2 linked regions of the Homo sapiens genome follow. The protein of the gene in region 1 purifies or fractionates together with the protein of each later gene. This does not show direct contact. Each region holds a gene or a part of one and is shown on either strand. Other genes may lie near its edges.

Evidence for each region. Proteins that work in one complex are often made in the same cells at the same time.
Region 2: the proteins of CD36 (region 1) and ITGA6 purify together in Homo sapiens (affinity purification with western blotting, with the first as the bait; one study listed by BioGRID). This does not show direct contact.

The regions. Positions count from the first base shown.
Region 1 is NC_000007.14:80,666,142-80,669,641, reverse strand, and holds part of CD36 (platelet glycoprotein 4), read right to left. Parts: intron 3,200-3,500; coding exon 3,153-3,199; intron 1-3,152.
Region 2 is NC_000002.12:172,430,586-172,434,085, reverse strand, and holds part of ITGA6 (integrin alpha-6 isoform b preproprotein), read right to left. Parts: intron 1-3,500. UniProt on the Homo sapiens protein: Integrin alpha-6/beta-1 (ITGA6:ITGB1) is a receptor for laminin on platelets. Integrin alpha-6/beta-1 (ITGA6:ITGB1) is present in oocytes and is involved in sperm-egg fusion.

The DNA.
Region 1 (3,500 bases):
CGCTTGTAATCCCAGCTACTTGGGAGGCAGCTATCCTGAGGCAGGATAGGCCTGCCTCAGCTATCCTGAGATAGGCGCTCGTAATCCCAGCTATCCTGAGGCAGGATAATTGCTTGCACCCAGGAGGCGGATACTGCAGTGAGCCAAGATCATGCCATTGCACTCCAGCCTGGGCGACAAGTGGAAAACTTTGTCTCAAACAAAACAAAACTATATTTAACTTATTAATATCCAAAATATTTTAACATGTAACCATTATAAAATATTTTAAATTCTTAAAGTCTCAAAATCTACTGTGCATTTTATATTTACAGCACATTTCAAATCATACTAGCCAGATTTTGAGTCCTTAACAGTTACATATGGCTGGCGGCTGCTATTGTCAACAACAAATCTACATACTATACATATTTAATGGTACAAAATAAAAGAAACTTAAACATGAAATGTTAAGGCTAACATTGTGTTTGTTTTTTGAAATGCCCTACCCCACCAGTAGAGTGGCACTTTTCTTCCAGTGAAGTTCATTTGGATCTCCTGCCATGTCCACATTTATTTGTAGTGATTTTTTTTCTCATTTGTCCTAATGGCTGATTACTACTTCTAAAAATATTTACTAAAGTTCTCTCACTAAACAGAACTTCAAATGCTTTGAAAGTGTATAAAAAAGTCATTTATTGAATTTACTTTTTGCTACAGCTATGATCCATGGCAAACATTGGATATATGAAGAAATAGTTAACTCCTCCATGTACTTCTCACATGAATATCACTAATACGAGCCGTCATTGAATGAGTTTTAAATGGTAAGTCTCATCTTTGATTATGCATTGTAGGTTCTTTCTCTGGCAAGTGTGTCAACCTTGTGACCTTGTTTTCATTAGTTTACACTCTTGTGACAAGTAAAATATAAGCCCCCATATGGACATTGACAACAACTGCTTTTCCATTTCCTTAATAATTAAAGAAAAATGCATTGAAAAGCTTTTAAGATCATTATCTAAAATATCATTGAAGATTATGTCCTAATTATACCCAGCAACTACCATGGACAATGACTGCAACATAGTTGATATTTGCAGAGCTTTTTTTCTGTCCTCCCAAAAGAAACATTCTAAATGTATACCAATACTTTCATTTTAAGTCTTTTCAAACTTACTGAAGAAGGTAAAGAGGATGCACTTCTAAATTACGATGAAAACACATTAGAACCTTACTGTTTTATTACTTTCTTTTCGCTAGTGCCATAAGCAAGAATCTCTCTCACAGGGATCATCCCCTGCTCTGTCCAAATTCCCTCTTTTCCTAGTTTGTATCAGCCCTATTTTCCCCATAGATATTTTTAACATCATGCCTGATGCTCATGCATTTCTATTATTGTCAATGAATCTTCTTTTTAAAGATTTTTCTCCTTAAAGAATCCTTTACTAGGATTAACACAGTATATTTATCTCTGCATCTAAGGACTAAGTATTCCGCTTATACAACTACTAGCATTGGTAGTATTGAGGACTTGAAAATTTATTTCCAGAAATGCTTTACTTAGAAAATAGCTTATTTGCCCACTCCTATGGCTCAAAACCCTGCAAAGCCTTGGCCAGGTGTGGTGGCTCAAGCCTGTAATCCCAGCACTTTGGGAGGCCGAGGGGGGCGGATCACAAGGTCAAGAGATCAAGACCATCCTGGCCAACATGGTGAAACCGTCTCTACTAAAAATACAAAAATTAGCTGGGTGTGGTGGCACATGCCTGTAGTCCCAACTACTCATGAGATTGAGGTAGGAGAATCACTTGAACCCCAGGAGGCAGAGGTTGCAGTGAGCCGAGATCGCACCACTGCACTCCAGCCTGGCAACAGAGCCAGACTATGTCTCAAAAAAAAAAAAAAAAAAAAACAAAAGAAAACCCCTGCAAATCCAACAGTGTTTTTGCTGTTTTTTTTGTTTGCTTTTTTTGTTTATCATTTCCTACAAGGCAATGATAGAATCAAGTACGCATACGAAGTCAATAATCATACCTTTGGCAAAGTAAACATTCTCTGTACTTCATTTTTACTTAAGTGTCTTTATCTTTGTTATATCATTTTCCTATGGGATATTCCCTAATTTTCTAAACTTCATGCTTTTGTTTCCTAGTAGTTGAAAGCTTGCCTCTGGATATTAATTACTTCATGGTATTCGATTCCCACCACTTTTTTTTTTTTTTTTTTTTTTGAGACAGGGTCTCACACTATTGCCCAGGCTAGAGTGCAGAGGCACAATTATAGCTCACTGCAGCCTCCACCTCCTGGAATCAAGTGATCCTCCTGCCTCAGCCTCCCAAGTAGCCGGAACTAAAAGCGTGTGCCAGCACACCCAGCTAATATTTGTATTTTTTTTGTAGAGATGGGATTTTGCTATGTTGCCCAGGCTGGTCTCAACCTCCGGGGCACAAGTAGTCTACCTGCCTTGGTCTCCCAAAGTGCTGGGATTATAGACATGAGCCACTGTGACCAGCCTCCCATTGCTTTTTAAAAATCTTAATTCTTAAACTAATAGGCATATCTGTACTTTGCTTTTCCTGAAGGAGAATAAGCCTGATCTAACCATACCTTAAATCTAAGTTTATGAATGCTCATTTTTTACATATATTTTTCACAGTTAAGAAGACATCTGACTTTGTTATTGTTTTCTCTCTCATTCTGACCACCTTATCCAAAAATGGATGGTTCTGTCTTGCAACTTTATTCTATCTCAGCTATAAGCCTTGCTTAGATATGTTTTCTATTTTGTAATTAGCTTTTTTTAATTCTTTCAATTCTAACTTATCTGTATACTATTTATAAAATATTTGAAATGTAACTAAAGTGTTTTGTGTTGTTGTTTGTTTTTTACCATTTACTTCTGTTGCCAGGATGGCAGTAAAGTTTTTACAAAGCAAACATTTCTCTGAATCATGCAGTAAGGGCTAATTTTTTATGATTAATCTTTACAAATCCCATCACATTGAACAGACCTTTAGCCTATATACAAATAGTGACTCTGAATTTTGTTGTGGGGATATAAAGGCAAGTAAACACACACCCTCAACTTTCAGAACACTGTCAGTACAACGGTGGATTTGTGGGAAAGGGAGGTGGATTAACTGTGATGACCACAAAACAAATATTCTTACCTGTACCATTAATCATGTCGCAGTGACTTTCCCAATAGGACAGATTCCTAGGAATAGAAAAAGACAATGAATAAACATTCTTATTTAAAGAATACCTTTCTTACATTACTTTTTCTATTATAATTCAATACTTCTGTTAATATGATGCATTTAAATGTGACAAGTACTAAGTTTAAGAAATGTTCAATTCTGTTTATGTTTTGTTTGAACCTTTTATCTTATTGCAATGTACCTGATGCCATTAGGTAGCCAGATCATAAAATAAAAACTGCCAGGTGTTAATTAGAAACATCTTGGAATAAGAAAAAAATTAAAAACATTTATCAGAAACTTAGATCTCTACTTAGG
Region 2 (3,500 bases), on another chromosome or scaffold:
AACCTGCCCTGGGTGTTGTGCAAGTTATCCAGCCTCCTAGGGATGGAGGTGTGGGGGTGCTTTCAAGGTCATAGAGGTCTAAGAAGGCCTGGAAACCAGACAGGTGGTATTCCTTAGCAGTAAGCCCAACCTATAACTGCACCACCCACCCTCCATGGGTATCCAGCTCACAGTCACTGCCCCGTCATGTCTATGCACCCATCTGTCCACTCATCTCTGAACACTGAGACCTCACTGGGATTTATCTATGGCTTAGTAGCTACGAAGGGCTGCTAAGTAGAAGGCATGGCTCTTCTGAGATGCACTTTTCAACTGGAGAGTGGAATGGAAGAAAGGGAGAATGTGATGAAAACCAAACCTTTAAACGTGATGAAAACCAAACCTAAAAGGAGAAAGCACATACACAGCACAGGCCGGGAAGCAGGGAAGATGCAGATTGAAGACCAAGTTTGCTAGACATGCCGCCACCACTGCACCTCTTACAGCCTTGGTTTCCTCATCTATTTAACAAACACAAAATGCTCACTCTGGACCAGGACTATTCTAATGTGCGAGGATACTAGCTTCACAGCTGAAGGCAGGAAGGCCTAGGAAGGTTAGGAATCCTGCACAAAATCATAGCTAGTCAATGGCAGAAAAGGGTTTGATCCTACCTGGCTCTAGGCTCTGCTCTTAGTCACTACATTACACTCTGCCTTCTGTGTAAAGGAGAAAAGCTAGTCTGACTCAAACGAAGAAGACTTTAAGAACAGCTTCTTGGAGCACACTTATGGAAACTGACGTAACAGATCTAGGCTGGGCTGAGAATCACACTTTTATAAAAGGTTGCCCAAGTAGTTACCCTGAAGACCAGCCAGGTTTCAGAACCCCTAAGCTTCCTTCCAGATATAAAGTTATTTGATTCCAGAGTTGTACCCAAGCCCAGAAAGGGAAGATGGGCACCGGGGGCTGAGACTACGTCCACTTCCCACTGCTGCAGTACGTAATCTTTACCATCCTCCCAGGAGCCAGCGGGGGTGCTACACAGATCCCCAGATCCCATGCTATGGCTCCTAGGCTCACCCCCGGAGCAGGTAAGCAGCCTTCCCACCATCCTACCGAAAGAGTTAAATATATCCAAGATTCCCTTACTATCCTTGAAGAAATAAACCTGCCGCTATCAATTCACAAGTGACTTCACACGTGTACTGCACACTTCCATTTGACCCCCACACCCCTGTCAAGTTGCTTTCAGAAAGATCTCTATTCCACAGTCATCCTTCTCTGTCCAGCCTCATAACAACCAACCACCTCAGCAAGTCCCGAGTACCCACTGCAGTGTAGGTCAGCCTGTATTTCTGGGGTTAGGTTCTAAAGTCTGCCTTTAGGGCAAAAGCCAGGTGAAATTTACAAACACTCATGAAAATCCCTTAGCTGGAACCCCCCGCCTTTGAAAAATCAAAAACCAAGAATTAACGTCTTGTGCGTTTCTTTGCTAAGCTTACAGATTCCGTTTCCTCAGAGGCAGAAGACACCAAGGCCTGAGCAAGGAAGGGCAAAGGGTTAAAGAAAGGGATTTCTCCCTCTCTCCACCCTCAGCAGGAAGAGTTGATGTCACAGGTTAAACTGAGTGTATAATATCAGTCTCTATTGTATTTGCAAGGCATATGCTAGGTGCTAGCAGGCAAAGAAATGAATGTAAGACCCCTGCCCTCACATAACCTACAATCCAGTTGGGAGAGATTAGATCATGTCCTAAAGATAGTGGATCACAGTTTAGCACAAAACATCAGAATTGTCAGACACAATGTGCTACAGACATCCAAAGGAGTTAAAGACATTGCTTTAGTGTAGGATGGGGAAATTTTAAACTGGTTCTTAAGCTATGATTATATTCTTAAAATGGGCTGATTCAGCACTAAATCAGTGTTTCAGGCACAATTGACCCTGTCATCTAAGCTTACAACAGTATTTTCTGTTTTGTCTCACTGTCCCTCTTGAAAATACCAAATAATTCACTGGCCTCACTGTCCACAGTAATATGTTGAGCCGAGGTCTTCAGGAAACCATGCGCCATAATTCTGGTACTATTTGGTTATGAAAGCTTAAATTAAATCTCAATATATTGTTATGCTAAGAGAGTCTATATAACTGAGAACACAGAATAACCACTTCTTTATAATAAAGGAATCCTTTTATATAAGCATTTATCCTGACTTCCCCAACAAATTATTTATACCATATAAATACTTTGACCCTTTTTTTCCCCAACCCTGTCATTACTTGGTCTCACACCAGCCTGTGTTAAAATTAAACTTGCCTATTTCTGCTTTCTTGCAGAGTCCTAAGACTTCCTGTAAGTCTCGCTGCCCGTTTTGGCTTTTTCTCTACTCTTAGCATTCAAGGTGACCCAGCAATCCCTGGAAGATGGCCCTGGGCCACATGGCACTCCGAGTGAATAAATGCAAGGAAGCAAGTGCTTAGGTACACATCCTGAATACAGCTCTGATTCTTGGCTAGCTACAGCCACACTTCACTGGGCTTTTTCAGAAGGGAATGGGGTGGAGGCAGGCAAAGAAGGACGGACCCAGAACTTGTTCCAAGGCCAGCTGGAATAGAGTCAATAGTAAGAGTCCAGGCACCAATATTTAAATAGATAGCCCTGACCTATGCATATGGGAAGCAGTTTGATAAATCAACACAATATAGTACACTTCCAAAATTCAGATGCTTGCCGATTTCTCTAGGTCTGAAGAACATTTCTGGCTTTTCCATTTAAAAATGGCATGAGCATGGGTCAGAGATTCAAATCCACATTCTGTTAAGATTCTGCTCAAGCTGAACTTTCAGCTTCAGTTTCTTCATCTGTAAAAAGAGGCAGTTGGACTAGATGATCTCTAGTTCAGAAAATATGATTTTAAGAGATGGAACATGACAAGTCTGAGAAAAGTCAAGAACAAACCTAGTAAGGGTCAGAACAGAACAGACCGCGGGCCTGGAGCATTTCTGGAAGACAGTGGTGGTCAGAGAGAGAGACCCCATAAAGAAGAAAATGAGGGTTGGCAGAAATCCAAAATGACTTCATGAGACTATCTCTTATAGATCTCCTTCTTCTAGGTTCTTCCCTGTGATCATATATAGATCCATCTCTTCCCAGAAGAGCTAAGAGTGATGATTCATAGGCTGGATATACCCACAGTCATCATCACATACCTTCCACCTCTGGGAATGACTCAATCTTAACTACCTAAGAGAAATTAAAGAGTCCAAGGTGCTCAGACCCTGACCTCAGTCACTCGGCGGACCAACTTGGCTGACCATTGAGTAATCTTTTGGAGTCCGAAACTTCTTTAATATACAGCCTGAAAACCTGGATGAAGTTTATGGTATCTACTTCAATTTTATAGTCTCCAAAGCTTTAGGAACACCCGACATGTTTTGGGGCTCTCTGACACAATATTATTCTGCAAAAGTCATAACTGGAGTTTAAAATGTGACTGAATAGTTAAAGGCACTATAGA